4 linked regions of the Homo sapiens genome follow. The protein of the gene in region 1 interacts with the protein of each later gene in a pairwise test. Each region holds a gene or a part of one and is shown in the gene's direction. Other genes may lie near its edges.

Region 1 (8,404 bases):
GAGCATGTAAATGCTCACATGTGTGTGTGCACACATACACACCAGTTCATTCTCTTGTACTTGTTTTTCCCAGTTAAAATAGAAACTCAGGAAACTGGACTGAGGAAGGTCTGTATTCAATGGCTATTTGTTCTCTGGAGAAAAGGAGAGAATTGAGCTGACTAGCACCAAGCCTCAATCCAAGCCACTGGTCAATGAGGGTTTGTTGAATAACTACATGAGTGATTACATGATTATATGATAAATTTGCTGAAAAAACATAATTATTTGGGCAAGTCGCTCTTTGACGGGTAAATGTAATTCTTTTATCTCATTTATTTCCCTTCCAGTATTTCATTCTGATGTTTATAGTATATGCCTTTGAAGTGGCATCTTGTATCACAGCAGCAACACAACAAGACTTTGTGAGTACAACCTCAAAAAGCAAAATAATATGAATTATCATTATTATAACAACCAACATGTATTAACCCCTTACTATGTGCCCAGGCAATCCAATATGCACAGTAATAATACATCTATCATTTTACTTAATCCTCATAAATCTATGAAATAGGCATTATCACTCTGGTCATTTGAGAAAGGAAAAAAAATGAGACAGAAAGGTAAAATGACTTGTCTAAAGTGACATAGTTGGCAACTGAAAGAGCAAGAATTCTGAACCCAGATGGCCTGACTCCCAGGGCCCAAGTTTGTAATCCCCTGTGGGTTTCACCACTCTGCCATGGCCATGGGCCTTCCAATGGGAGGATCTCTGTTCTACCTCAGCTAAGACGTGCTCTCAATTCTACATCTTTCTTTCTCTCCCATTCTCTGTTTTCCTAGCCTAAGCCACCCTACAGTATGTGTTCCCCTGGCCTCATAGTGATTTCTTTTAAGATGAGAGTCTCTTCTCTGCATGGGGACTTATGCCAACCTCAGCCAGCTGTACTTGGTGCCTCTGAGTACAGTTTTGCTCCAGGAGAGAATGTTCAGTGTCCCCAGGAAAAGACAGAGAAAAATATTTTCCTCTCCTTGAAAATTAGCGTGCTATCTCTCCCTCTTGTGTTGCCTCTTCCTACTATAGTTCACACCCAACCTCTTCCTGAAGCAGATGCTAGAGAGGTACCAAAACAACAGCCCTCCAAACAATGATGACCAGTGGAAAAACAATGGAGTCACCAAAACCTGGGACAGGCTCATGCTCCAGGTAAGACCTGTGGTCTTGGGGAGATGCCATTTTTACTTACTGGTGGGAGTGGGTGTCATACACATGACTCAGTGGGACCCTATATTTTATTTCAAGCCATGATGATTAGCTTACATTTGTTGGAATGATTTTGTCAAGAAACTTAGGTTAATCATACACTCTCCCTCTTAGAACTCAGGTATCATTTACATTAAAAGAAAAATATTTTCTCTACCCCACAGTGAACTCGAGTGGTAATTACTGCCTGTTTCGCCTTTTGGGTACCTCTTCACAACTCCTGTGAGCTAGTCTTGCCAAGGACCAGGCCCTATATCTTGATTTGATCACCCAATTTTCTCCAACTGGCAATCATAGTTTATGTCCATGTTTATCTCCAGTGCCATCAAAAGTCCAAGTCTTCCAGAATATCCATCATCACCCCCACATTGCCCTCTGTATGCAAATTGTTATCCTCTACATAACTACCAATCTGACCTAGCTTTCTTACTGGCCCCTGCTCCTACTCCACACCCCACCACCAACTTTTTACAGTCTGTCATCAGCAAACTCCCTTATAGCCACCACTCCTTCTATGAACTCTTTACTATCTTTTTCTTGCTTCATTGGAAATTTGGCTATCTCCTGGGAGTGCTACCTGCCCTTCATTTTCCTCCCATATCCATGTACCATAGGACCTGGAAATTGGCTAGGTGTCCTTCTTGCTCCCCTTGGCTGCCATACTATTTGCTTCCTTGATCTACATCACCCCTTATCCTTCCTTGCCATTACTTACCAGCCTCCCTACCCTCAGTCGTTCTCCTGCCTTCATTAGGGATTTCAATATCTCACTTAACTATCTACCTCTTCAGTCATACTCCTGATATCCCACCTAGAAACTTCAGCAGCCACATGGATGACTCAGCAACATTTAGTCTCACAATTCCTTGTCCTACCCCATTCCAAAGATTTTGTCTTTCTCCCCACCTCCACCCTCTTCCATGACCATAGTCAGCATGCCATCACCAGTAACTGTGCCACTAAGAACATTCCATTCTCTGACCATTAATTTCTATCATTTCTTTCATTTATTCTAATATCTCAATTCTAATAATTTTATTCCATTAGGACCTCCAATTAATTGACCACTTTTTAACTTTTATCACCCCTTTCATGTTTTCTCTTTCCTCTTTGCCTAACCCATATTCAGGTCCAGCCCCATAGCCAGTCCTTCCCTACCCTTCTCTGTGGGTCACTCTTTCCTAACCAAGCCCACCGAGTAGAATATAGCTTTTTGCTCACTCTTCGTTTATACTCTAAGAGCTAAACATTGCTGAGAAAAGTCACACAACCATGATCATTTCAATTTAAACTTGTGACCACAGAGCTCAAATGGGCACACAATATTTCCTAGTATATTTTCCCAGAAAATTCACTTGTCACTATTTCACATGTTCTTCCTTCATGCCTGCCACACCTCTTCTCACCCTCCCTCTCAGTTGATGACCCGACCTCATATGTTTTTAAGAATATAGAAGAAATTAGACAAGAACCACCTCATCTTTCTACCACCAAATCTACATTGATATACACCTGTGCACTTTGCCTTCTCTCTTGTTATGTCACACAGGCTGTCCTTTGTCCAGCTCTTTTGATTCTGTTCTGCATTCCATCTCCTTTGCCCCAACAGTCTTCCCTGCTCTGATCTGCCTCATCAGTTTCTCCCTTTCAACAGCCTACATGGACACCTTAAATTGTCTATCTTATAAAAAGACTCCCTTGTCCAACATTCACCCACTATTCTGTCCTACTACTGTTTTGTTTTATTCCACAGCAAATCTCAGAAGAGATGCCTACACTTGTGGTCCCATTTTCATCCCTCTCATCTGCTTTCATCCAACTACAATTGGCCTCTGCCTCACCACTCAACAAAAACAACCCTGCCATAATTACCAATTACCTCCATCCTGCCAAATCCAATAGCCAAGTCTCTGTCCTCATCTTCTTTGACATCTTATCAGCATTTGTCTCACTGACTACTCCCGCTTAGTCTCCTCTGCTGGGTTGTCACTCTTTACCCAAATCTGAAGCTTGGAGTGCTACAAAGCTCAATTTTGGACCCTTAAATCTTCTCTGTGCCCACTAAATCCTAGTTTGAAATAAGCCTGGCTTAGACTTAACCATTTTTCCCAGAATGCAGAATAATTATTTTTCTTGGTTAGATATTTCCCATAACATAGTGACAAAATTGTATATCCTTTAAAGATGGTTGATTTATCATCAAGTTTACTTGAATACATTCATTCTAAAAGTTCCAAGATACCCATGGTTTTAACTTCCTCCCTTTTGAAGGATTTTAGGAGAATTGATAACAAAGAAGGAAAGCTATATGAATTGTGTTTTGTCCTCTATTCTCAATTCTATCCAGAGTGTAAGGGATGTATTAATTGGTCTCCCTCCCCTATGTGGAGACATAGCTCTGTGTCACCAGGTTATTTTTTTCACTTTATTTTCTCCCATTATAAAAATAATACCTAATTACTCTAAAAAATGTTTAAATGTATAGAAAAGCAAAACAAGAACAATTACTCATAACTTCACCACTAAAATTTTTAATTTTATGATTCTCAATTTGCTTTGATATAATCTTTAATTTTATGATTCTCAATTTGCTCTGATATATCAGAATAATTATTCCTCTCTCACATTGTTATATCAATATATTAGTACAGTATCAATCATAATTAACATTTATTAAGAGTTTACCATAAGCCAGGCACTGTATTGAGCACATTAAGTATATTAACTCATTTAATCCTTAAAAAAACTCTATGAGATAGGTACTATATTCCAATTTTACAGTTAAGGAAACTGAGGCTTAGACAGTTTAAGTAACATGTCAATGGCTACAGGGTTCACTAATGACTAGTAAAGTAGGAAGTGTAAAAATTCTTTTACAAACTGTAAAATGTAAGTTGTAAGTTATCAATACCTTCAGCTGTCATTTGGGGATTTCTTAGTAAATGTAAGATATGGTACACTTTCCGTATCTTCTTTCTCTATAAAATTTCAGTTGCTACATTGATGGCTCTAGTAGGGACCACGAAAGAGAATTTTGTATCTCTCATCTGCTGACAGGACAATTGCTGTGGCGTAAATGGTCCATCAGACTGGCAAAAATACACATCTGCCTTCCGGACTGAGAATAATGATGCTGACTATCCCTGGCCTCGTCAATGCTGTGTTATGAACAATCTTAAAGAACCTCTCAACCTGGAGGCTTGTAAACTAGGCGTGCCTGGTTTTTATCACAATCAGGTGAGTCCTCTCTCCTCCCAAGACTTCCCAGGAGGTTCTGCTGCTCTTTATGAGAAAAATATTGGTCAACTGTAGGAAATAGTCTTTCAGTAAGGAATTCTACATTCTTTTCCCTAAACCTCATGTTAACTATTTCCTTCTCTGTTAATAAACTGCAAATGCTAAACCAGGACTGATAGGGGCAAATTTACATTTTAATAAAATTAACAAAACATGAGAATTGCAATAGCAGAACCCAACTTTGTTTAAATGAAGACAATTTGCACAATGTATGGAATTGGTATGTCAAGAAATATTTACATTAAACAAAGTTTTGCTCTAGTTTTGCAAAATGTAAATTGGAAGGGATGATGTGCAAAAAGAATGTTTTGCCAATTCCAAAGCAATGACTATTGCTGAGGATAAATGTAGTAATTACACATCCACATTCCTTATTCAATGGTAAAGTAGGACAGTCTTAATAAACATTAGGTTGGTGATTTGGATGGAAGGTAGTTTACATACAGATAGTTTTTGAAAAAGTTTCCAGGCTGATGAGGATAATGTGATTACGATCATGAAAACTAACATTTATTGTGTACTTACTAAATGCCAAACACTGTTTCCAGTGCCACACATACACTATCTCCTTTAATGCTCAGTAGTAGGTGCCAGTAGGATCCCTGTTTTACAAACGAAGAACTTAGACGTAGAGATACTAATAAATACCTTGCTGAGGTCACACAACTAGTAAATGTCCGTCTTTTCAAAAAACTCTCTGGCTTTTGAAACATGAGTTTTCTGCCTTCAAGCACAGACTCTAAGCCAGTGAAGACTTGTTAATATTCCCCAAAAGCCCTGATGAGAACCTCCAGGTACTTGTAGTCAGCATCTGCTGACCCTGTACACTGAAACGCTGTGCTCTGCTCAGGGAGTTACCTCTTTAAGGAAAGCTAGTTGTGTACCAGCTCATTAAATAATTGAGAAATGTCAGGCTGTTTTGTTTGGGAGCAGTACAAACTGCATGTTCAGATTGAGGGACATGGCACTGTTGCTGACAGGGTGCCTGGACTAGAACTGGATGCATTATTCCAGAAAAGGGCATGGGAGTGTTCTAGATTATTTTGCAGCAGTGTCCAGAGCAACCCTCATTGAGCTTTACTGCAACATTGTCTGGCATTGTTTTAATCAATTATATTCAGACTGTTATTAAAAATTAAATTTGCTGCTTATAATCAAGGTGTACAATATAATTATTCTCAGGACTATAAAAGGCTTTTGATATTTCAACACTGGAACTGCTCATGCAAACAAATCTTGATTGGATTGTAATTGTGTACAAACTGTATTACCTCTTTGAAAGGGATAAAAATAGGACATTTGTCTTCAGATAACCAGTTTATTTCATAGTTATACCTTTTTTCCTAGCACATATAATATTTTAGTTATGAGGACAAACCTGAAGCTTTTCTCAAGTTTAGATAGATGAGAAATTGAGGAAAAGATACAAATGAACTATTTTCCTCTACCTTGGGACCTCCACACCCATTTTGACAATGCTTCTAACACGTTCCCTTACAGTTCCCTGGCCTCATCTGTTCTAACAATTCCACCTCCACTACCCTACAGTTCCCTGGCTTTATCTGTTCTAACAACTCCACCTCCACTACCTACCAACTACAAATTCATCATCACTCAGCCCTACTCCTCCACCAAATTCCTGAATTCTGAAATTCCTCTCTCTGTTCCTGACTTCCTGTGCTCCTTGTTTCTCAACCTCACTCATTCTGCTCCTTTGACATAATCTCTTATCTATTAGTCCTTTCTGATTCTCCCTAGCCCAGCCTCCCAGATTCCCACACACCACCATTCTCCCTGACTCATAGGTCTTGCTAAGTCCCCTCTTGCCATCCTTTTCCACCAAGAAAAAGGTGCTACCCCAAGACCTGGTATACTTTATTTCTATTATTGCATTCACTACCTGGAACTATATTTGTTCCCAAGTCTATTTTTTCTGAGTCTCCTTGAGGACTATGTATTATTTGATTCTACAGATTTGATATTTTTAGTACTTAGCATAATGCCTGGCACAAAGCAAGCACCGACGTTTGATAGATGGGTGAATAAAGAAGTGAATAGTGAATGGTTTTTCTTTTTCTTTTTTTTTTTTTTTTTTTGAGATGGAGCCTGTCTCACTCTGTCGCCAGGCTGGAGTGCAGTGGCGCTATCTCGGCTCACTGCAACCTCCACCTCCCAGGTTCAAGTGATTCTCCTGCCTCAGCCTCCCAAGTAGCTGGGACTACAGGTGCACGCAACCACACCCAGCTAATTTTTGTATTTTTAGTAGAGATGGGGTTTCACCATGTTGGCCAGGATGGTCTCGATCTCTTGACCTTGTGATCCACCCACCTCAGCCTCCCAAAGTGCTGGGATTAAAGGAGTGAGCCACCGTGCCCAGCCTGGTTTTTGTTTTGTTTTGTTTGAGAGACAGGGTCTCACTCTGTCACCCAAGCTGGAGTGCCATGCTGCAATCACAGCTTATTGCAGCCTCAAGCTCCTGGGCTCGAGTGATCCTCCTTTCCACCTCAGCCTCCCAACTAACTACAGGCATGTACCACCAGGCCTGGCTAATTTTATTTTTTGTAGAGATGAGGTCTCACTGTGTTGCCCAGGCTTCACTTTTTGACAACCATATTGTAGGTTTTCAGGATCTACAATGCACAAATGTGCTGCTATAGCTGTGAAGACTAACAAAATTAGGGAAGTCACTATAAGCTTGTTAATAGTAGAAATTAACTAGAATTTCACACAGCATGTCAGATGCAAATATATATATATTCTATGTTATGGTTTATGTGACTCAGAAATGCTATGTGCAAATTGTGATCACTATACCTCAAAAATGTTATAATAAAATGAAGGAAGATCAAGTAAAGTACCACTAAATTGACTAGCATCACGAAAAGGCACTAAATGATGGTGAAAAAAATGGGGCTTCTGTCTGTGAGCTTCATGAAGGCAAGGCCCATTTCTGTTTGCCACAGCTAAATGCCCAGCCAGTACTTGGCACCTGGCATAAGTGGGCCCTTATATATATATTATTAGATGAACGACCACCTCCCAGGATTGTTGGGAGGACCAAGGAGTAGCAGATATGGGAGTGTTTTGTGAACCATCAAGTGTGTTGCAAATTATACTATTGTAAACATTAATGTTCCATTCATTCTGTAAATGTTTATTACGTGTCTACTATGTGCCAAGCACTTGTTCTAGGTTCTAGAAATTCAACAGTGAACAACATAAAATCCCTGCCCTCATGGAGCTTGCATTCTAGCATGGGAGACAGAAAATAAACATGTTACCAAACAAATACATGATAAAATTCCAGGCCCAAATAGGCCATGAGCAGAAATAAGGCAGGGTGAGTATATAGAGTAGGATGGAGAAAGGGTCTTTTTCTCTGTCACTGTCAGGAAAGGCTTTGTTGAGATGATATTTGCAGAGGTTTGAATTAAGTGAGAAAATGAGACACCGGAAGATTGGGGAGGAAAGTTCTACAAGAAAGGAGTTGTGAGTGCAAAGGCCCTTAAGTGGGAGCAGGCCCAGCTTTTTGAAGGAGCATAAAGGAGATCAGTATGACAAAGTCAGAATGAGTGAAGGATGAGTAGATGACAAGGATGGAGCTAGATTTTTTGTGGCTGGAGTCCCCCACCCCCACCCTCACACACAAATTATAGGGAAGGATCCTTCTTAGGAAAAACAATAAAAATATGCATACAAAATTAGGCACAGGGCCTTGAAAGGGTCTTGCAAGTAAGGGGCCCTGAAGCTTAAGCTCATTCGCTTTATAGAGAAACCTCCTCTGGTAGTGGAAGATGGGGTGAGAGGCAGAGCCGCATGGTCCATGGAACCAGCCCTGGTTATTGCATTTCCTAGGCATTC
Region 2 (8,404 bases), on another chromosome or scaffold:
CCCTGCCCCCCGCCCCCTGCCCCGGGCGAGCCCTCAGCCCATTCACCATCTCAGCCCCGTCTGGACCGTTCCCAGCTTTGGTGCCCTAGACCCTGTGGCAGGCAGGGCCCTGGGCCAGGTACCAGGTGCCAGGCAGTGAGCAGGGCAGCAAAGCTTTGTGGGACTTTGCCTGCCTGGAGGAGCCTGGTTCTGGGGAGGTGGAACTGCTCCCACCAGATTAGTCCTGGGCTTTTGTCAGGCCAGGCCTGGCAGGTCCAGCTGGACTCAACTCCAGGGTGTGTTTGGCCTCGGACTTGTGGAGTGATCCAGAATAAGTCCCTTCCCCTCACTAGGCCTGTCTCCCCATCTACTAGATGAGGGGTTGGCTGGGCTTCCAGCCCCTTGCCAGCCCTGAAATTCAACAATTCCATGTCATCTGTCCTTGGCACCTTATTGGCCGTCTGGCCACCGTGCACCTCAGCCACTGCCTCTTCAGGTGGGCACCGACCTTTAATGCTCTGGCCACTGCCCTTCCCCTGCCCCTTTGCCATCTTACTGCCCACCTCTCACCTGCTGAGCCCCCCTTCTCGGTCCCCCTGCCCCTGCCCCCCAGCCAGTGCTACTTAGCTCTGTCCCCATCTCTCCCACTCCACCCCGCGCAGTGGCGGATCATCGTGGGGGCCACCAAATGCATCCCCAAGTCGGAGCTGCCTGAGGAGGTAGAGGTGACCACCCTGGCCAGCACGCGGCTCTGGACCCACCCCAGCGACCTAACTATAGCCCTCTCAGCCAGCACTCCACTCTACCCGCCCGGCCGCATCATCCACGTGGTCCACAACCACCCTGCAGAGCAGTGCTGGTAGGTTCTGCCAGGGTCTGCTGCTGCAGGGGGTAGTGGCCAGGGCAGGGGCAGTGGAGAGCAGGGCCGGCCTTGGCTCAATCACCGCTCGGGGCTGGGGGTGGAGGCTGGGAGAAGATGGCCCAGGGCCTCCATGGAGGGGTTTCCCCAGCATCGGGCTCTGGAAATGGAACAAAAGGCCAGCCCTGAGCAGGACTCCAGGCGTCTCTCTCCATAGTCTGGCTTTGCCTCCAGTGTCAGCCCTTCCCTGGTGTGCCCCAGGGCAGCTCTCCCCACTGGTGGTCCATTTAAAAGTAGGTGCCCTGGAGGGCTCACCCCTCAGGCCCTGGCCAGCTCACACCTCAGTTGTCACTTGGTTTCACCAAGGGAATTCCTCGAAGACAGCTGTGAGCAAGGTGGGGGCTGCGCCAGGAGAGAGAATAGGAGCAGGCAAGTGGGTAGACCTTTCCCACTGTGCTCCTTCAGACGGCTGGGCCCTGGCTCCTCCCTCCAGGGTCGGCTTCCTCCCCTGACACAGCTGGTGAGCTGGGCCGTGCAGCAGGTGGAGCAGGTGTGGCCCAGGCCAAAAGCAGGTCGAAGGCTGTGGAGGGACCATGGCTGAGGCTCGAGGTCAGCCTTTCCCAGGCTGAGGGCAGGGCAGGAGCCAGGCCAGGGAACAGAGCCCTGCTGCCAGGCAGGCCAGGGGCCTCCAAACCATGCCAGCTCTGCTGAGCAGGGCAGAGAACAGAGCCAGGAGGCCCTGGCACCGAGGGCCAGGCCACCACCCCACCCTTAACTCCCCTCTGTCCATGTCCCTCTCAGCTGCTGTGAGCAGGAGGAGCCCACATACTTTGCCATCTGGGGCGACAACAAGGCCTTCAATGAGGTGATCATCTCGCCAGCCATGCTGCATGAGCACCTGCCCTATGTGGTCATGGAGGGGCTCAACAAGGTGAGGCAGCTCCCGGCAGGGTACCACCAGGGAATAAGGCACTGTCACCCCATCAGAACCCCGTAAGCACCATCAGATCACTGCCCGATTTTACAGACAAGGGTGCTGGGGCTCAGAGAAGTAGGTAGCTGGGCCAGAAAGCCCCACTCAAATACTTCAACCTCACACCCCTGGCTCTGTCCACATCACCACGTTGCCCCATGGTGGGGAGGAGATAAGGAGACTCCCAGGGGCCTGTCCCTGAGGCAGGCTCAGCTCAGAGGCCCGGAAGGCCACCTGGCCCTTAACAGATGAATGGGCAAGCAGCGACAGCCACAGCCATCCCCTGGCTGCGGAAAGGCTGAAGGCAGGTAGGGCAGGAGCACTCGCCGGGCTGTGGGGCGAGTCGTGACCAGATGGGCAAGTCTCAGGCCTTGGGGAGTGGTGACCTCAGGAGGAGGAGAGTGGGACCCAAGTGACTCCATGAGGCTTTGCTTGGCCTGAGAGGCCTGGGCCCTGGCTCCACATCGGCCCCACGATGGGGCCTGATGTCCCTCCACCACCCCCAGCCTCCTCTGTCCTGTCCTCAGGTGCTGGAGAACTACAACAAGGGGAAGACCGCTCTGCTCTCTGCAGCCAAGGTCATGGTGAGCCCTACCGAGGTGGACCTGACTCCTGAGCTCATCTTCCAGCAGCAGCCACTCCCCACGGGGCCGCCCATGCCCACTGGCCTTGCCCTGGAGCTGCCGACTGCAGACCACCGCAACAGCAGCGTCAGGTGAGCCTTGGCCACTCCCAGCCCCACCCCAGGGTGAGTGTGGTTCAGAGCACATAGACTTGTGTGCACATGCATTTTGTGCATGCACTGGGCTCAGCTCTGCACACGTGCACAGGAGGGGTCAAACTCACCCTCTGTGCTCTAGGGCTCTCTTGCTGTGCTCCAGCTGTCCCACAGCCTGCTGTCCCTGAATCCTACATGAGCCAGGGGAGGCACACAGACCCACAAACCCTGGGCCACAAAAGCACAGATTCACTCTTTTTTTTTTTTTTTTTTTTTGAGACGAAGTCTCGCTCTTTTCCCCCAGGCCGGAGTGCAATGGCGCGACCTTGGCTCACTGCAACCTCCACCTCCCAGGTTCAAGCGATTATCCTGCCTCAGCCTCCCAAGTAGCTGGGATTACAGGCGCCTGCCACCGTGCCCAGCTAATTTTTGTATTTTTAGTAGAGATGGGATTTCACCATGTTGGCCAGGCTGGTCTTGAACTCCTGACCTCAGGTGATCTGCCCGCCTCAGCCTCCCAAAGTGCTGGGATTATAGGGGTGAACCACCATGGCCGGCCTGCACAGATTCACTCTTACACACTTAGACGCAAACAGATGGACACCCATTTACTTACATATTTGTATTGAAGCTTACACACATACATGTGCACACAATTATTAGTTATAAGTACACAGGTCACCCCCTACAGACATGCACATGTACAAGACACACACCAAGACAAAGGTGGAGACACATATACAAGGACACATGTGGACAGGCAGGTGCTCATGGAAATGCATGAATACACCTGTGCACAGACCCAGACACACAAGCCAGCTGACATACACAGACGTCTGGTCTACACACTCATACACATGAACAGAGGCGTGCACACATGCTCACAGGGGCACGCACATGGGGGCCACAGCGCCCTTGCTATTCACACACTCTTTGAGGGGTGCGAGGCTCTTAAGTGGTAGTCCTTCCAGGGGAGGATTGTCCTGCCTTTCTAGGACCTTCCCACACAGGCCCTGTGTGCTTGGTCACAGATCTGGTCAAGAGGCTGCTTCCTGGCCCTTGGTAGGGACAACTGGACGTCTCTCCCTGCCATTTGTGCATTTCCTGTGGCAGCTGCACAACCCGATGAAGAAGCCAGTGTCCATTTCCGGCTGCGGTGACTGCTGCAAGCCACCCACTCCCTGCCCTGTCACTCATTCCCTGCAGGCTGGTCTGCGGAGCCAGGGGCACTAGGCTCCCCACCCAGCAGAGGGCTGCGGCCCATGGGAGACAGGAGGAGACCCGGATGAGGAAGGAAGTGATGAGATCCCTGGGAGTGGCACCCAGGGTTGCTGGCTCTGAGATTGGGGTGGAACCAGTTGGGCAGCTATGTGCAGGGCTCTCTCCCTTCCCTGTCTCCCTGCTGCCCTCTGTCCCTCCCTCCCTCCCTCCCTTCCTCCTTCCCTCCCTCCCTCCTTCCCTCCCTCTGTCTCTCTCATTCCACTGTGGCCTCATGAGTGACCTGGGGCAGGCTCATGAGTGATCTGGGGCAGCCAGTCTATCAGAGCCTCATTCTCACATTGGTACAATGACAGGGGTTCTGGTGCAGAGAACCCCAGCAGCACTCCTGAAGTCCTAGTGCTGCCAGCAGGGCCTTAGCCCCTCAGGGACCCCGCGGCTCAACCCAGCATCAACTCTTTTGTCTTCTATCTTGGGTTCTTGTGAGTTGTTTTTAAAAAATAATCATTCCTGGCTGGGCGCGGTGGCTCACGCCTGTAATCTCAGCACTTTGGGAGGCCGAGGCAGGCGGATCACCAGGTCAGCAGATTGAGACCATCCTGGCTAACATGGTGAAACCCCATCTCTACTAAAAAATACAAAAAATTAGCCAGGCATGGTGGCGGGCACCTGTAGTCCCAGCTACTCGGGAGGCTGAGGCAGGAGAATGGCGTGAACCCAGGGCGGAGCTTGCAGTGAGCCAAGATCGTGCCACTGCACTCCAGCCTGGGCGACAGAGCGAGACTCTGTCTCAAAAAAAAAAAAAAAAAAAGAAAATAAGCATTCCCTGCTGCACATCATCAACAACTGCTAAATGAACTGTACCCTTTATTCCCTGCAAGTTCCTTTTAGCCAGGGAGCTGGGGTTCAGTCCCCTCTCCCTTCTGAGTCTTATACCCCCTGCTCTCCTCTCCCTCTGCAGGAGCAAGTCCCAGTCTGAGATGAGCCTGGAGGGCTTCTCGGAGGGGCGGCTGCTGTCGCCAGTGGTTGCGGCGGCGGCCCGCCAGGACCCGGTGGAGCTGCTGCTGCTGTCTACCCAGGAGCGGCTGGCGGCGGAGCTGCAGGCCCGGCGGGCACCACTGGCCACCATGGAGAGCCTCTCGGACACTGAGTCCCTGTACAGCTTCGACTCGCGCCGCTCCTCAGGCTTCCGCAGCATCCGGGGCTCCCCCAGCCTCCACGCTGTGCTGGAGCGTGATGAAGGCCACCTCTTCTACATTGACCCTGCCATCCCCGAGGAAAACCCATCCCTGAGCTCGCGCACTGAGCTGCTGGCGGCCGACAGCCTGTCCAAGCACTCACAGGACACGCAGCCCCTGGAGGCGGCCCTGGGCAGTGGCGGCGTCACTCCTGAGCGGCCCCCCAGTGCTGCGGCCAATGACGAGGAGGAAGAGGTTGGCGGTGGGGGTGGCGGGCCGGCCTCCCGCGGGGAGCTGGCGCTGCACAATGGGCGCCTGGGGGACTCGCCCAGTCCTCAGGTGCTGGAATTCGCCGAGTTCATCGACAGCCTCTTCAACCTGGACAGCAAGAGCAGCTCCTTCCAAGACCTCTACTGCATGGTGGTGCCCGAGAGCCCCACCAGTGACTACGCTGAGGGCCCCAAGTCCCCCAGCCAGCAAGAGATCCTGCTCCGTGCCCAGTTCGAGCCCAACCTGGTGCCCAAGCCCCCACGGCTCTTTGCCGGCTCAGCCGACCCCTCCTCGGGCATCTCACTCTCGCCCTCCTTCCCGCTCAGCTCCTCGGGTGAGCTCATGGACCTGACGCCCACGGGCCTCAGTAGCCAGGAATGCCTGGCGGCTGACAAGATCCGGACTTCTACCCCCACTGGCCACGGAGCCAGCCCCGCCAAGCAAGATGAGCTGGTCATCTCAGCACGCTAGCACCCCAGTTGCGTGGCCAGCCGGGCCCAGGCAGGAGCAGGTGGCCCTGTGGGCACCTGGTGCCTGCCCCCTGCCGGGCAGCTTTAAGGACAGACCCCCAGGGGCAGTTTAGCCTCAGGCACAGGCATCGCTGCTGAGCTGGGGGTCCGCATCCCTACCTCAGCTTAGGACCCCCAGAGCCAAGGTGGCTGGGATCTGGCCCCACAGATGGGGAAAGATGGGGAAGGGTGTGGAGTGGGGAGGAGCCTGGGCAGCCTGCTGGGTGGGCCACACTCAGCCTGACTGCCCTCCATGGGGGCATTCTGGCACCCCCTGCTCCAGGACAGGCCATGGGCAAGCTGCCTCCCATCACTGCCTGCTGGCTGCTCTCCCAGGGGCCAGGTGGAGAGCAGTGCCCCCCGACACATGTATTCTCATCTGTGGTCCAGGCCGGCATCGTCCTGGCCACCCCCCAGATCTGGTGCCTGCTGGCCGGCCCCCTGGGGTGCCCCTGCCGAGGTGGCCTGCAGTGCTGTACATGTTTACAGAAGCTGCTGGGCTTGGCTCAGGATGTGTTCTGGGCTTGCAAGCCCCCCGCCCAATCATGTGTTCAGTAGCCGTCCTCTGAGCAGGGCCCAAGGCAGCCAGGGGCCTGGAGGGGCCAGAGGAGGGTGGGGTCAGGGCCGCCCCTTCTCTGCCTTGTGCCTCTCATGCTGCCTCCTCTGCCCATGGGTCCTGGGCACCCAGGCCTGCCCTGCCTGCTGGCTACTTCCTGGCTTACCTTCTACCCCCAAGGATCCTCACCACCCAAAGGGTGGTGGGCACTGCTGTGACCACCCCAGCTGCAGAGTCAGTGCCCTGGGTGGAAGGAAGGCACTGAGAGCCCCCTTCCTCTGAGGGCCCCACCTCACCCCTTGGTGTCACCCCCACCACGCCTAGGCAGCTCTGGGCCCTGGGATCTGGAACCAACACACCCCTGTTCCCCTCAGCTTTCCCTCCTCGCTGGCCTGGGCACCCTCCTGGGAGCAGGCCTTCCTCCCTCCCACCCCCAATGTCCTGTTGGTAGGAGGTGGGGCCAAGAGTGGGGTATGGTGGGCCTTGGCTGGAGACCTCTGTCCACTGCCCAGGGAGGGGCCTGGGGCTGGGAGCAGTCCCGGTTTAGCCTGAGGTCCCCATAGGGCTTCCTCCCCTGCTGGGTTTGGGAAGCAGTTAGGGAGATAGCGACCCGGAGTTTCCCCAGAAGCGGGGTGGGAGGGTGTGCATGCTAGTGTTGGCGCGTATGCATGTGCATGAGTGTGCACCGTTCCTAAGGAAGGGGCCTCTGGGGCTGCCCACCCTACCTGCCCTGCCTGCCTGCTGCCCCTCCCAGCCTGCCAAGAAAACGGTAGGGGAGCATGATGGGGCCTTTGAGGCAGGGTCGCAGGGACAAGCTCAGCTTTAGGCACCATCTGTTCCCATCGCGCCTGCTGCTGTGACCCGTTTTGGAAAACTGGTGTGTACCGAGGCGCTGACTGCACGGCTGACCGCCTGCTCGTGCCTTCATTCTGCAGCGGCATGGTCCCTCCCATTCTGGCTCCACCTGCAGCCTCCCTGGGTGGCCTAGGCTCCCCCGACCAAGAGACCTCCCTCTCATGATCACTGGTACCTGGGGGCCTGAATTCTGGCCCCCGGCTCCCCACACAGCTGGGACTGGCCTGGATGGCTGTCCTGGGAGCCCCTGCCCACCCTGACAGAGGGAGCTGGGCCTCCCCTCATCCTCTGTAACTCCCGCCTTCACCAGACTCAAGGACACCCTGGCCCTGCTGAGGCATACAGAGCTTCAGCCCAGCACAGAAGCAAGACAAAATCAGTGGCTCTTAGAGTTTAGAAAACAAGACAGACTCTCAGATGAAAGATCTGACAAGCACCGTGGCCAGTCACAGGGAGAGACTTGATGTCTGGCCTTTTAATTCCTCCTCTGCCAGGGTGGGTCCTGGGACCTCTAATGTGGGCATGTCGTCCACCCCAGGACGAGCCATCAGGGACAGACCCCCCACCCCCAAGGCTGCAGCCACACCATGTTTCAGGCTTGGGGCTGGGGCAGGCTTGGGCTCAATCCTGGGCACCCAGGGGCAGCCCACCCCTAACCTGGCTCCTACCCACCTCGCCCTTGAAGGATGGGCCTGCTGCACGTCTCCCTCCTCCACCCCATACCACACTGGGGGGTCTGAGCCACCCCCCTCAGCCCCGTTCGGCTCAGACCGACCCCCACTCCATCCCCAGACCTGCAGCACAAGTGCGCGGGCCTGTCCTCCCAGGGGCCTGGGCGACTCCATATGCAATCAGTAGCGAGCAGCCGGGCCCCACAGACCCTCATGCACTCTCTTACGTGCCATTCTCCCCAGACTTTTTTTGTACTTAATGTATGAAAGATCCAAACTAATATTGCTGTAAAAAGGAGAGACAAATTAATATAGCTTATTCTATAAATATATCTGTATATAAAGGTTTCTGTATATTGTATAGAGCTGTGTATAAACTGGATGTAGAAGCACGCTGGCTGCCTCGAATGTCTTTGCATCAGGTGGGGACTGGGTAGAAATTTGATGTCGAGGTTGCAGCAGAGCAGGGGGTTGGCATGGGGCCGGGGGCCGGGGGGGCCTCTGCCACTGTTCCCTGGATGGAACAGAAAGCCTAAGGGGGAAACAGATTCCTTGGGACCAGAGCCCGTTTCACCCACAAGACGCAGGGTGTGTTTGGGTGGTTCAGGTCCAGCCCTT
Region 3 (7,320 bases), on another chromosome or scaffold:
TTTTACATTTTGGTTTTTGAGAACATAATAGGGACCTGTATACTCCTTGTGGGGCCGCATTTTAAGACTCCTGACAGCTCATCCTGCAAAATTAAAATCCAAAATCTAAGTCGCAAAATTCTCTTTTCTCCTTCCTCAGTTATTTACTTAGAGTGTAGAACAGACATCCTCTTAGAGTTTTTTGTAACTATCAGTTATCGTTAACATCATATTTTTATTCTAAATCCTTCCATAGAAACACTGCTTGTTGGGAAAAAAAAAGGCTTTTACTTTGTTTCACCATTGTACAGAGGGTAAATGAAATAACTTTCGCTGAATATTTGGTCTATAATACTGTTACATTTCCTCTATTATTTTAACATCTTTTGAAAAATTCAAATTTTTACTGTTCATTCACATATCATTTTAAATTGAGGTTTAGTTCACATACGATGAATGCACAGCTCGTAGGTATACAGTTTAACGACTTATGACAGTGGTATAACCACAAGACCAGCAACATTTGAATCTTTCCATCACCCTAGACAGTTTGCCCTGTGTCCCATTCCAGTTAAATTACCTTTCCTACACACACAAAGGCAACTACTGTTCTGATTTTTGACACCAGAGCTTAGACCAACTATTATTTAAAGTCATGTAAATGCAAATATGTAGTATACAATCTTCTGTGGCTGGATTTTTTTTCACTCAACATTTTTTTTGGAGATTCCTTCATTTTGTTGCATGTATCAGTTGTCTTATTTTGAATTGCTGAGCGGAATTCCCTTGTATGGATATACCATAATTTGTTCACTTATTTTCCTGTTGGTGGATATTTGGATTATTTCTGGAATTTGGCTCTTAAGAATAAAGCTGCTAGGAGCATTCTTGCACAAGGCATTTTGAGAACATATTTTCATTTTTCTTGAGGATATACATAGGAGTAGGTTTGTTGGGCCATAGAAAAGGCATATATTTAATTTTATAAGAAACAGTTTCCAAAGTGTTTTTCCAATTTACTCTCCCACCAATAATATCTGAAAATTCCAGTTGCTCCACATCTGCAGCAACTTCACCAAAAAATACTGTCACGTTTAAAATTTTGTTCAGTCATTTTAATGTCAGATATTTATATAGCAATTCAATATTTTACTTTATGATATTATCCATATTTATCCCATTCACATCATTTCTCTCAAACAGTAACTACAAGGAGATTAAGGAATTATGCTAGAATTTTTTATTTATTTATTTATTTATTTTTTTAGACAAGGTCTCACTCTGTCACTCAGGTTAGAGTGCAGTGGTGCAATCTCCGCTCACAGCAACCTCTGCCTCCCAGGCTAAAGCGATCCTCCCACTTCAGACTCCCAAGTAGCTGGGAACACAAGTGCGTGCCACCATGACCAGCTAATTTTTTGTATTTTTGGTGGAGACAGGGTTTCACCATGTTGCTCATGATGGTCTTGAACTCCTGAGCTCAGGTGATCAATCCACTCACCTCGGCCTCCCAAAATGCTGAGATTACAGGTGTGAGCCACCATGCCCTAGAATTTTTTTATGTGTCTTCTGGGGCATGTGCATATTTAATAAACGTTCTTATCATCATTAAAACAAACTGATTATATACTTAGAATTTTCATAGTTACTAAGTGTATAAATCATATGTGTCAGGTAAATATTTTGGGGAGACACTTTATAATCTCATCATTATGCTTGAATTGTTTCATTTCAAGCCAACAATAAACTATTCAAATTCACTCAAAATTGGGGGTAAATTAACTTAGAAATTTCTATAAAGAGACGGGGAAATTTCATATAATGAGATAGGAAATATTAAGTTTAAATGCCTCAAAAGAATGTTGCATATTCCTATAGTACTTCTATAGTCTGCCTGAACTCATCATCAACTTTCTCCCTTCCAGATGATGCCACCAGTCCCCATTTCTCAACACGTCATGAAGGGTCCTTCCAAGTTCCTGTCCTGTGTGCTGTAATGAATGTGGTCTTCATCACCATTTTAATCATAGCTCTCATTGCCTTATCAGGTGGGTCTACACTTCATCAATTCTTTCAAAGCCTCCTAGCTGTAAGCATTCATGCCCAGCTGAAATCAATATTAGTTTAGTCTAGTTAATCAGAAACTAGCTAATTCAGAATCATCCCATGTACCATATATGGCCAATTTCCTAATCAATACTAAACATAATTCCACAATCCTTGAATAATTAATGTAATACTTTTATAAGTATTAAAAGTATCTATGATTTATATATTACTGTAGAATAAAATTGCATTTGAAAAGATGTTTACATCTAGAATGAAGGGAGCTGATTTGAATTCTGAATAAATACCTATTTAGCTAGAAAAAAATGTGAACTTCACATTCATTGATTATGGAAAAAAATCGTATCTAAAGCCATAGATTAATCAGGAAGTGGCCAGTCTTTTGTGTTTTATCTCAAAGGACACAGAATGGTAGTTCTGAATAATTAAGATTATATTTAAAAGTTCCCAGAGAGTCAGTAGTGATTTGGTATTCAATACCTCCAGCTGTACCAAGATATATTTGTATCTTTTACAAATGGGAATGTTTACCATTGTTTTGAGATATTCTGAGTCATATGTCTTTCTGTATTTTGAATTGGTTCCCTAAAAGTTAGTTACTCTCTCCATCTTTCCAGCCTAGTGCTATAAATACTGCATCTTCAAATTCTTCCGCCTCTGCATTCAGATTCAAAACCTTATTTGAAATGTATAATGCACTTTATCCTTTCTAGTCCAAAGAAATATCTAGTCCAAATTTTCAGAATTGTTCTATATTTCTGTCATTTTCTGACATTATGACCAAAAGTACATCCCCTCATCCTCATATCTCCATCCAATGATGATTAGGCACAATGGAAGATCAGATATGGTCCTGAGAACTTTCTTTCTTCATACCCTTTTCAGAATTCTACTTTTTAGCTTTTATCCTTTACTTTATCACCACCTAGCACAACATAGCATCCTAAGGCTAGTTTTGCATGCTGTGGGTATTTGGTTTCTTTTGTTACTAAAACAAAGCATTTTTCTGTTCACAGTGGGCCAATACAATTGTCCAGGCCAATACACATTCTCAATGCCATCAGACAGCCATGTTTCTTCATGCTCTGAGGACTGGGTTGGCTACCAGAGGAAATGCTACTTTATTTCTACTGTGAAGAGGAGCTGGACTTCAGCCCAAAATGCTTGTTCTGAACATGGTGCTACTCTTGCTGTCATTGATTCTGAAAAGGACATGGTAAGAATAAAAAAAAGATAAAATACTACTATTTTAATTCATATGGCTAATCAGTGCTTTCCTTCCGTTTCTAAGTGGAGAAAACAAACAAACAAACAAACATTGTACCTATTTCAGATGTAGGAAAATGTCATCCCAGAGAACCATATGATCAGCCTGAGGTCAAAATGAGATTTAATTTAATCTTTTAAATTTGATTTGATTGCTTAGCTTCAAAGACCAGAAATCCAAATATGCTGATCCTATATAGAATGAGTACATGGTCAGATAAGCTGTCATGCCTCAAGTTGCAGCTTTTGAGAAACAGGATTTACTATCTACTTCCCCAGAAGGGTGTTTAATGTAACAAACTCCTTTGTGCTTTCTTTAAGAACTTTCTAAAACGATACGCAGGTAGAGAGGAACACTGGGTTGGACTGAAAAAGGAACCTGGTCACCCATGGAAGTGGTCAAATGGCAAAGAATTTAACAACTGGTAAGTCTCCAGAAGTCTCTTTATATTCCCCAGGGTGGCATCTCAGGAAAATCACTTTCCTTTTCTCCTTTCAAAGCACTTTAAATATAAAGGCTGAGCTCTTCAAGAGCTCTAACAATCTCTTCTGAATGCGTATACTCTGGAATTCTTTAATAACAGGCTTTATTATTATTCTTTTTCTTTATCCACACTTATAATACATAAAATAAATGCTTATAGTAATTTTTCTCAGCAAACTCTAATGTGAGTAGTAGATCTGGTTAATTTGGAAATATTTCAATAATAATTATGATGATGCAACAAAAACCCATTTTCAATGTCACATTTAGTCTTTACTAATAAGACAGTTGCTGGAAAATAAATCCTTCTTACTATTTCTCAGTTTTCATCTCCACAGAATAAAGAATAGTTTCAATGCCTAATTATGAGTTTCTATACACCTGAAAGAAAATTTGCCCCAGAATTAGATACTCTATTTTCATTACCTTTAGTTAAAATACATTTAATGTTTGAAGATCATTTTATAAGTTTGCTGTTGATCATAATACTGATAAAGTATCGAGATTAAAATTCAGGTTTCTAGAAAAGGGATTCCTAATATTTGTCCTATGGCTCCATATCCACAGATGGGCTTCAGGAGCCATAAACCCCTTAAAGCTGTATGCACTAGTATGCATGGCTGTTGAATGCATACAATTTTGTGAAATTATTTATTGAAAAATCTATGAACTCAGAAATGACCAAGAATCACTTATCTGGTGCCATGCCAACCAAATGAATGGCGTGCTTTCCTCTTACTTCCATATTTTTTCTCCACATCCTATTTTTTTTTCAATTCTTGTCCATTGTCTCTACAGATTAGTCTATGATTATTTGACTTGTGTATCCCACTAAGAATTTAAAAGAAGCAGAGGTCACCATCTCCGAGTTCATTCTCATGTAACTGAATGAAAACAATGAGCTGAAAATAATTCTAAGTTTTTTTATTGTTTGACAGGTTCAACGTTACAGGGTCTGACAAGTGTGTTTTTCTGAAAAACACAGAGGTCAGCAGCATGGAATGTGAGAAGAATTTATACTGGATATGTAACAAACCTTACAAATAATAAGGAAACATGTTCACTTATTGACTATTATAGAATGGAACTCAAGGAAATCTGTGTCAGTGGATGCTGCTCTGTGGTCCGAAGTCTTCCATAGAGACTTTGTGAAAAAAAATTTTATAGTGTCTTGGGAATTTTCTTCCAAACAGAACTATGGAAAAAAAGGAAGAAATTCCAGGAAAATCTGCACTGTGGGCTTTTATTGCCATGAGCTAGAAGCATCACAGGTTGACCAATAACCATGCCCAAGAATGAGAAGAATGACTATGCAACCTTTGGATGCACTTTATATTATTTTGAATCCAGAAATAATGAAATAACTAGGCGTGGACTTACTATTTATTGCTGAATGACTACCAACAGTGAGAGCCCTTCATGCATTTGCACTATTGGAAGGAGTTAGATGTTGGTACTAGATACTGAATGTAAACAAAGGAATTATGGCTGGTAACATAGGTTTTTAGTCTAATTGAATCCCTTAAACTCAGGGAGCATTTATAAATGGACAAATGCTTATGAAACTAAGATTTGTAATATTTCTCTCTTTTTAGAGAAATTTGCCAATTTACTTTGTTATTTTTCCCCAAAAAGAATGGGATGATCATGTATTTATTTTTTTACTTCCTCAGCTGTAGACAGGTCCTTTTCGATGGTACATATTTCTTTGCCTTTATAATCTTTTATACAGTGTCTTACAGAGAAAAGACATAAGCAAAGACTATGAGGAATATTTGCAAGACATAGAATAGTGTTGGAAAATGTGCAATATGTGATGTGGCAAATCTCTATTAGGAAATATTCTGTAATCTTCAGACCTAGAATAATACTAGTCTTATAATAGGTTTGTGACTTTCCTAAATCAATTCTATTACGTGCAATACTTCAATACTTCATTTAAAATATTTTTATGTGCAATAAAATGTATTTGTTTGTATTTTGTGTTCAGTACAATTATAAGCTGTTTTTATATATGTGAAATAAAAGTAGAATAAACACAATGGTTTCCAAGAAAGTTCATTCCTTCAAAATACATTAAAAAGTATATACTATATGAGAAAGCAGAAAACAGTTACTATAACTTAGGAAAAAATCCCATGTAGAGTAAAACCCTTAGTTTTATAATAGCTTATACATATCAAATTGTTTTCATATGCTTATATGCTAAAGGGTGTATGTATCCATATCCATTTTTCTGTATATAGCAGATGCTCTGTAATAATTACTCCTCATAGTCAATGCTCTGAAAGTATCTTGTTCAATTCTGAGGTGCTACATACACTTTAGTTATTTATGTAAAATAATTCAATATATAGAAAAGAGGCATAATCTTCATGGGATATTTCAATCAGCAAAAAACTCAATGATGTAGTTTGGATGTGTGTCCCTGCCCAAATCTCATGTCGCATTGTAATCCCCTTTGTTGGAGGTGGGGCCTGGTGGGAGGTGATTACATCATGGGAGCGAATCTCTCATGAATGGTTTAGCATCATCCTCTTGATGGTCTCCTTGCACCTGAGTGAGTTCTCAGGAGATCTGGTCTTTTCAAAGTGTGCAGCACTTTCTCTCTCTCTCTCTCTCTTTCTCTCTCTCTTTCCTGCTTTCTCCATGTGACATGCCTGCTCCCACTCCACTTCACCTTCCAACATACATAAAAGCTCCCTAAGCTTCCGCGGAAGCTGAGCAGTGTCAGCATTATGCTTGTAAAAACTGCAGAACCGTAAGCCAATTAAGCCTTTTTTCTTTATAAATTACCCAGTCTCAGATATTTTTATAGCAATGCAAGAATAGCCTAATACATTTGATTACCTTCAAAATTGTTTTATAAATGTAATTTGCAATATTCTTCTCTGCTTGTTGGAAATGTATGATGTGTATGGTATCTCTAAACTATTGGCAAACGGCAAACAGAAATGTGGATTTCAGACACTGCTTAGTGAAAAATAATGACCTCTGTGCTCCTGAGTTCCCACAGCTGTGGGAAAAAAGAAACAAGCAGCCTCCTAGCGGTAATATTCTATCATTACCAACAATCTACTCCCGAGTCATCTTAGAAAACAATGTCTTGCGATTAATATTTTAGTTATAACATATTTTTATGTGCATAAATCTAATCAAATTATGAAAATTGAGAGCAAGCTTAAAAATATTTCTATATTAGTATGACACAATTTTTAAGTCATTGAATACTGACTGTATCACCTAACAATTCAATGAATTTTATCATTTTTACAAATAATTTTATTGAATCCCTATAATTATGTGAAATGAGCAGCTGATGTATTTCCCTTTCCAGAGGAAGAAGTTGAAATTATGTTGAAAAAGCGACGCAAAACACGGATAACAGAGTTATTTTTTACACATAATTTGAAGTCATTTTATTCATAAGGACAACTGTTTTCTTTAAATAGATAAAAAATATACAATTCTTAAAGGGAATAATGTTATTATTTAAAGTATGACTCTACTTGCAAGTGACCAAT
Region 4 (8,404 bases), on another chromosome or scaffold:
CACTAGATTATTCCCAGTATGAGACCATACTGAATATGAACAATTAGAGGCCACAGGTGAGTGCTGTCCTCCTCACACTTTCTTTGAACTCTTAAGCTTCTACTCTTTTAACCAGCTACCCCTCTCCCCAAAACCTTCACTGAGGCTAGAAACAAACACAAATAGACTATTTGAATTTTAGCAAATTTTATCTCTCTTTTCTATTCTCTTGTGTAAAACTTAAATGGCCACAAGCTACACTACTGGAGGAAAAAGGAAAGCTAAAAGGTCTATCAGCCTTCTGTATGTGATGCAGAGTTCAACTGAATATAGCAAGGTACACACCCGCATTCTCCTTGCCAGGACTTAGATATCATAAGCCATTATCTTGCTGGTTGTTGAAATCATAATGGGGCTTTATAGAGCACAAGGCGATGTTTGTAAACAGCACTGTTCAGGTCAGATTAGAATCCGTATTTCAAAAATGAGGAGATGGAAACAGAGATATTGTGTATGTGGTCCAGGGTTAGCCAGTAATTAAATGGCAGAGCCAGAACTCAAACCAACATTCCTTCCAGAATACCACAGCTGCCTCTGGAGTGGTTTTTGTTGTTCTTGTTGAATTTTGTGATGGAAGATTGTGATTTGTTTTTCCCGAACACTTAATATGTTTTCTGACTTGAATTATCAGAATCTAAATTTAGAAACTCTCTCGTTTGGTATATTTCATGCCCATCTTTGTTCCATATAATTACAAAAATATCTTAGAGCTGAGTATAACCTTAAAGATTGTCAAGTCCAATCTTGTGGTTTTTCAAGGAAGAAAACCGGATTTAAGAAAAATAAAGCAAGTACCTCATGTTGCTTCCCCAAATCTACTTCATTGGAGAATTACAGCTAAAAACAATGTTCAGATTTTTGCTCCTTCTGTCATGTGGTCCCTTGAGAATTTGCCAAATGTATAAATCCAGTGACTTATTTTGATGTACTCTTTTGGTTTGAGGTCTGTGACAGCAAACATAACCTCCTTGAATCCCAGCCTCAAATGCCTATGGACCTTCTGTTCTAACTGTTATTATAACTGTAGCCGTTATTATAGTGGCTAAAGTTCTAACTTCTGTTCTAACTGTGCTCCTGGTTCCATGACAAAGAGAGCTTTACTTGTCTTATTCCTAGCACAGTGCCCATAGCAGGCATACATAAAATGTGGTATGTCAGATAAACATCTGAAAAAGTGTGAGATGTCATTAGACGTTCATTCAGCTACAAGAACAGAAAACCCTACTACAGCGGCTTAAACAAGTAAGGAGTTTGTTTTTCTCAGAGAACGAGAAGTCTGGAGGTGAGAAGGCTGGGGCTGGGAAAGGGGTTCCGATATGAACGTCATCTGAGACAGGCTCCTTGTGTCTTCCCGCACCACCCTCCTTAGCATGGAGCTTTCATACTCACTTCCGCAAGTTGCAGCAGAAAGACGGGCAGAGGCATGCTCCAGAAGAGTCTTGTCTTGTCTTTTCTTTTCTTTTCTTTTCTCTCTTCTTTTCTTTTCTCTCTCTCTCTCTCTGTCTCATCTCTTTCTTTCTTTTGACTCAGAGTCTCTCTCAGTGGCACAATCTCGGCTCACTGCAACCTCCGCTTCCTGGGTTCAAGTGATTCTCCTGCCTCAGCCTCCAAGTAGCTGGGATTACAGACGTGCACCACCACGCCCAGCTAATTTTTGTATTTTTAGTAGAGACGGGGTTTCACCATGTTGGTCAGGCTGGTCTTGAACTCCTGACCCTGTGATCTGCCCCCCTCGGCCTCCCAAAGTGCTGGGATTACAGATGTGAGCCACCACGCCTGGCCTGTCCTTCTTTATAATAAATAATAATAATAACAGCTTTTCTGGTAGCCCACCCCAAAAGACTTCTTACATGTCATTGGCCAGAACCATATCACATACACACTGTTAACGGTGACGGAACCAGAGAGAATCTAGTGTTTGAGACAGACACGTTGCCAATACATCAAAATAAGAATTTTGGGCCAGACACAGTGGCTCACGCCTGTAATTCCAGCATTTTGGGAGGTCAAGGCGGGTGGATCACCTGAGGTCAGGAGTTCAAGACCAGCCTGGCCAACATGGTGAAACCCCATCTCTACTAAAAACACAAAAAATCAGCCGGGCGTGCTAGCAGGCGCCTATAGTCCCAGCTACTCAGGAGGCTGAGGCAGGAGAATCGCTTGAACCCAGGAGGCAGAGGTTGCAGTGAGCCGAGATCATGCCACTTGCACTCCAGCCTGGACAACAAGAGCGAAACTCCATCTCAAAAAAATAATAATAACAACAAAATAGGAATTTTGTTAATAAGGCGGGGGGAGAATGAACATTGGGTAGGCAGCTAGCAGCATCTGCCATAGTGTGTTTTATGAGTCATAGATCCTGTCTCTAAATAGGTTGTTATTTGTTTTGGTTTTTTGTTTGTTTTACTAAAAAGCAATGGGTAATGCAGTGGGTCCAGGGGAACTTTTTTAAATGGTAGAGTGCAAGGACCACTCTGAGAACTGCTGATTATGTAGGTCTGGGCTGGGTCTATAATTCTCCATTATGGACGGGCACGCCAGGTCATCTGAGGGCAGGTGGTTGCGGGAATACATTTTGAGAAACACCGAATGTCAGGTAGTTTAGCAAAAGCGACTTTATTTTATTTCTGTTAGCTTTTTGCCTCACTCCTCTTGAGGGTATACTTTATTTTTTAATTATCTGCTTTGGTCAACATAAATCAATGTATAGTCTTAGAAGTCGTTCATTGTAGAAGGTTTTCATTGAGTTTATACTGAGTATAGAACCCTAGCGGCAATTACTTTCAATGCTTTGGGTTGTGTTTTTCTGATATTACCATATTCTAAATAGCATGCAGATACGGGCCATTTCTTCTTCTCTTTTCCAGTTCTGGATGACATCTATTGACATCCTACCAAGAAGGATGAGGGTTTCGCTCCTTTACACCCCCACCCTCCCTCTCACCTTCACATCCCTTTCTTTTAAGTTCCCAGTACGGTTATATCCTAAATTTTTGATATGTCAATGTTTGGTGTATATATTATTCCCAACTAAGGCACATGATACACCATGATCTTTACATTTCCCTTCTTGACCAGTCTTTCCCCCAACCCCCTGGAATGGGGTGTAGGAGTTGCTACATTTTCTTTAGTTGTTTGAGAACTCATCACCAAGAAGTCATTTCCTGGAGCCAAGGAAACTCATGGGGGCCCTCTGAGTGCTGCTAATTGCATGGAGCTGTTGAGTGGGGAGGAAACGCCAGGCCGCCATCAAGAAGCATTTGGGGTAAATTTTCCAAGCACATCTGAAAAGACAGAGTCTAGAACCTCCACGGTCCCTGTCTGTTGTGATTTATTTTCTCATTCTAAATACACACACACTTTTTTTTTCTGTCTAGGCCATCTCTTGTGGAATACATATGTACTTTCATACCCAATTATGTACAGTTTTTGTAATTTTACGCCTTTTTCTTAAAGAAGGCTCCCAAAAGTGTATAAGATTCAGGCCCCATAAGATGCGGTTGCTTTTTGAGCTTGTGCCCATTTGAGATGTCACTTTTCTTCCTTCACACTTGCTTGCTGGTTTGGCTGGGTATGGGATATTAATCAGAAATCATTTCCCGTACGAATTTTGAAAACATTGCTCTATTTTATTCTACTTTCTTACGGTGCTGTTGAGAGGCTGATGCCATTCTAATTCCTGATCCCTTGTATTTTGTTCTAATCTCTGGGCATTTGTAGGGTTTTCTTTATTGTTCATATTCTGATATTTCATGATGTTGTTATTTAATGTTGGGGTGGGTTTTTTGGCGGGGTGGGGGGAATACAGGGAGGTATCCGTCACTGTCCTAAGTATTTTCTAGGCCTTTTCAATCCAAAAAGTACATTCTTCAGTTCTGAGTGGTTTTCTTCTGTTATATAATTTCCTCGTTCTTTCTTTCTGAAACTTAAATTACTTAGACTGAATCTGAAAATGGGATCTCTTGGATCTGTCTTGTAATTTTATCTTTTTTATTTTAAAAAATATCCCATGTTTTTTTAGTTCTAATAAATCTTCCAACAATGCTATTAAATGTTTACATTCTACCATTATATTTTTAATTCTCAGGAGCTTTTATTGGCGAGAGGTGTGGTCTTCTGAATGGTTTTTACAGTATCCTGTTCTCATTTCATGAACGCAGCATCTTCTCTTCTTTCTCCAAGCATATTAACTCAGTACTTTTTCTACATTTTAGAAGTTTTCTTCAGCTACCTACAATGTCTGTGTCTATTTTTAAAGTGACGTTTAATGTTGCTTTTGGCCTGCCTTTCACGTTGGAAGCTTTATACATGTTTGGGGATGGTGTGCGTCATCTGTGAGCATGGCTTGTAGGTTGGCTGGCTTCATTGCAGGGTGGTTAAGCAGAGAAGGCCTTTTTGATGGCTTATCATCATCTGTCTCTAGTGCTTTCTAGTACATATAATGGGTTTCTCTGTAGAAAGATCTCATTTCTAGCCATTTATTCCTGTTTGAGAAAAGTCACATAATAACTTAGATGTATTTATTATGTCATCTGCTTAATAGCGGAGGTTCTTGTTGTAAGGTGGACAGGTGGAGGTCTAGGATTCAAAATGGGAAATGTGTCCTTGACTCCGCCTGCACTTTGAAGTTGCTGATGTTCTCCATGTTTTATTTTCTATTGAAAAAGCTCTGAGATACTAGGGAATGAAAACTCTTTGACTACATGTACAACTAATTTACTTTTTGATAACCATTTGCAAAATATGGATTATATTGGGAAAACATTTTTCTTTTTTTTTTTTTTTTTGAGACAGAGTCTCACTCTGTGGCCCAGGCTGGAGTGCAGTGGCGCGATCTCAGCTCACTGCAAGCTCCGCCTCCCGAGTTCAAGCCATTCTCCTACCTCAGCCTCCTGAGTAGCTGGGATTACAGGCGCCCACCACCATGCCCAGCTAATTTTTGTATTTTTAGTAGAGACAGGGTTTCACCATGTTGGTCAGGCTGGTCTCGAACCCCTGACCTTGTGATCCACCCACCTCGGCCTCCCAAAGTGCTGGGATTACAGGCATGAGCCACCACACCCAGCCTGGGAAAATATTTTTCTAATATCTCTAGAATTTGGGACAGAATTTCTGTCCTTGAAGGTCACCCTCCAAATCCATGCAATTTTTCCCTTCTGCAGCCCCACAGTGATCATCAAAACTTGGAGCAGATTCATGTTTTTTATTTTTTTCCTGGGAAAGTTTTAGATCACGTGAAGGGAACAGATACTACGTTTGATAGGAATCGTTCCTGCTTTAGCTTCTTAAGGCCTCTCACTTGGAAAGCCTGCCCATTAGACCCTGATTTTTTGCTGTTAGCTTTTCCTTCTTAGGCGACTTCAACAAAGACTGCAAACTCCCTGACAGCACAGGCCCAGGCTTGTCACCCCTGCAACTCCATCTCCCAGAACAGTGCCTTATGCATAACAGGTACTTGATAAATGTTAGTTGACTTAAATTGACCCTATTATCTGTTTTAAACTAGCCCTTCCTACCTGTCCCCTTGCTATTTCCTCTGTTTCTGTTAAATCTTTTTATGTCACCACCTCTTGGATGATGCTACCTCATTCTCAAATCTGATGGTATGGAATAGCTATAAGAAAACAAACTTGAAAGATCTCTAACTACTAGGACTCTAAGTAGAATTTCCTGGATTGAAAACTCCCCATATCACCCTACTAAATATCTAATTATTTCTTAGGTTATCACCAACCACCCTGCATCGAGTCCCTCCTGAGCCACAGTTCAGTTTGGATTATTTTTTTCCTCATGTTCCATCCCTTGACTGTAGTGCCCTTCCCTTCCTTCCAGTGTCTTTGATCGGCCTGCACTTTGATCCAGAGCTTCTCTTTGATCTGTTCTAATGGTCATTTTTCTGCCTCCTCCCCTACATTGATCTACAATCTGGCATATTTTATACATTATACAAAGCTCATTGTTGTGCTCATTTCAGAATACCTACCTGTCAATCACACAGACATCTTTTCAAACCTAACTCAGACCCACAATGAAAGTCCCTCTCTTCTGGCCATTACTGAGATAGCTCCTGCTTCGGTCTCACTGGGGCTGTTTATTTCTCTATGGGAGGCTCTAGAACAGTAACTAAACTACAGTGCAAAACAGTGATCTATAGATTACTGTTTCTCAATCGTCAGCACTAACAATAGAGTCTAAACTCCCAGGGACCTGGAGACTTGTCTGAGAACAGCCTGGCATAAGTGCAGTCTCTCTTAATACTAAAAAATATATGCTACCCCACAATATGTCTGTATCTGTTTTAAAATGAAAATCATTTTTCCAGAATCTTTAGGTGAAATTGATACTCCAGGATTATGTTCGTCTTGTGATTTCAGATATCATCTGGGGGGAAAGGATTCACACATATGCCAGTCTGTGAGACACAGTAGTAGAAATCAAGGGACTTACCTAGCTCTAAGAATTGTATGAAAATAGTAACGGTACCAACAATTTTACCAATGGCTAGATTTAGGAGATGGTGTTCTCTTGATTCAAGATGAAGGCTAAGCTGCATCAGTTCAGTTCAGTTTAAGAACTATTATTATGTATCAAGCTTGTGCTAGTTTTTGATGGAGATGATAAGGTCTCCACTCTTGAAGATTCTGTAGACTAATGGGCAAGACATATGTCACTATATAATTTTAATATAACATGGTAAGTGATAAAAAATCATGGTATGTATGAGGTCCTTTGAAAACACAGAGGTGAGGCGCTTAGCCCAGCCTGGAGATTCACAGAGGCTTCCTGGAGGAAATAAGGCCTAAATATGGAAACCAAGTAAGAGGAATGAAAAGGACGTGCAATTTAGAGGGGACAACATGAGCAAAGGGGACACTGTCAGGTTCATGGTGGGGAGAATTGGGAGGTGACACTGGAGAGGAGCCACATTCAGGTATACCCAATGCAAGGGGACGTGGACCCCTCCACAGGCTGCTGGTTAGCCAATGGAACATTTTCCATCCTCCAGTAGTGTAGTCAGATGTACACGGAAGGTGGATGACTGGCTGCGGGGTGGAAGAAGAATTCATGGACAGCAGGACTAGAGGCCTCGCAGTGTTTAGGAAAAAGACAATGAGAGACCAAATGAGATCATTGCTGCAGGCACAGAAGGGAAAGAGAAAATACCAGGATACTTGGGGAAGCGAATTTAGCAGAATTTTGATGTCTTTGGGGGCAATGGTGAGGGGAGAAGAGAGTCCAGAATGACTCCCAAGATTCTGGCTTTCTGGGTGACTGGACATTAAGCCATTAACTAAGTTTGGGATATGAGAAGAGAAGCCGATTTGGTGGGGAAAGAAGATGGTGAGTTCAGTCTTGGAAATACTGACTTGAGGTGTCTAAGAAACATCTATACGTTTATGTGCATGTCTGTCTGTTCAGCAGGTTGTTGGATCTATGAGTCTGAGACTTAGAGACAAGGCCAGAGCTGGAGATGAAGTTGTGGGAGTCACCATTGTGCAAGTGGTGATTAATCCATGGGTGTGCGTGAGAGTTCTTGCAAGGGGAAGAGGAAACGGAAGTAAGGGCTTATGCAAGGAGGACTGTTGAGTAAAGTGGAAGGCCCAGCCTCTGCCTGCTCACTAATGTCAGTGCTGAACAAGCCCACTGGTAGTGGATGCTGAGGGAAGGAAGGAAGGAGTCTGTCTGTAAGCTTGAGCACTTTTTCCAAGAGGTGGAGAAGGCAGAGAGCCCAAGCCTTGAAGAAATGTTCCTTAGTGGCCTGGCATCTTGGAAATTTGACTCCATGACTTTGGAGAGATCTTTCCATTATTATTTTCCTTGAGCGCCCAGAAAGAGAATTCTGAACTAAATGTATTCTTTCCCATGGCTGAGTTAAGGATAGTGTTAATTACAGAAATATATGTAAGGTTTTTTTTGGTTTTTTTTTTTGGTTGTTTGAAAACTAAACCCACCTTTGAAGTCCAGAGATGTCCTTTCACTCTAATGTATGCTGAGGTGGCAACTGGTAACTGCTTCTTTGTAGGTAATAGCCATAGCCTTAGTTTCATCCTCCCTTCTCCATGACCAAAACTTGCTCCAACTTCTGCATTTCGTTTTTGTGATGTATTAATGAGGAGCAAAGACATAAAGGAATTTCAGAATTCAGAAGAGCCATGGAGAGTCCCTCTTCCAAACTCCCTATTTAACAAATAAAGAGGCCGGGCGCGGTGGCTCACGCCTGTAATCCCAGCACTTTGGGAGGCCGAGGCGGGCGGATCACGAGGTCAGGAGATCGAGACCATCCTGGCTAACACAGTGAAACCGTGTGCCTACTAAAAATACAAAAAATTAGCTGGGCGTGGTGGCGGGTGCCTGTAGTCCCAGC

Evidence for each region.
Region 2: the proteins of UPK1B (region 1) and DAGLA interact in binary tests that used the Homo sapiens proteins (3 or more experiments, as listed by UniProt).
Region 3: the proteins of UPK1B (region 1) and CD69 interact in binary tests that used the Homo sapiens proteins (3 or more experiments, as listed by UniProt).
Region 4: the proteins of UPK1B (region 1) and TMEM45B interact in binary tests that used the Homo sapiens proteins (3 or more experiments, as listed by UniProt).

What each region holds. Positions count from the first base shown.
Region 1 is NC_000003.12:119,189,916-119,198,319, forward strand, and holds part of UPK1B (uroplakin-1b), read left to right. Parts: intron 1-329; coding exon 330-404; intron 405-1,066; coding exon 1,067-1,189; intron 1,190-4,303; coding exon 4,304-4,483; intron 4,484-8,404. UniProt on the Homo sapiens protein: Component of the asymmetric unit membrane (AUM); a highly specialized biomembrane elaborated by terminally differentiated urothelial cells.
Region 2 is NC_000011.10:61,738,824-61,747,227, forward strand, and holds the end of DAGLA (diacylglycerol lipase-alpha), read left to right. Parts: intron 1-353; coding exon of another isoform or gene 354-475; intron 476-641; coding exon 642-838; intron 839-1,639; coding exon 1,640-1,769; intron 1,770-2,338; coding exon 2,339-2,526; intron 2,527-4,708; coding exon 4,709-5,666; 3' UTR 5,667-8,178; downstream 8,179-8,404. UniProt on the Homo sapiens protein: Serine hydrolase that hydrolyzes arachidonic acid-esterified diacylglycerols (DAGs) to produce the principal endocannabinoid, 2-arachidonoylglycerol (2-AG).
Region 3 is NC_000012.12:9,751,004-9,758,323, reverse strand, and holds the end of CD69 (early activation antigen CD69), read left to right. Parts: intron 1-1,904; coding exon 1,905-2,027; intron 2,028-3,062; coding exon 3,063-3,262; intron 3,263-3,633; coding exon 3,634-3,737; intron 3,738-4,734; coding exon 4,735-4,843; 3' UTR 4,844-5,838; downstream 5,839-7,320. UniProt on the Homo sapiens protein: Transmembrane protein expressed mainly on T-cells resident in mucosa that plays an essential role in immune cell homeostasis.
Region 4 is NC_000011.10:129,818,033-129,826,436, forward strand, and holds part of TMEM45B (transmembrane protein 45B), read left to right. Parts: intron 1-8,404.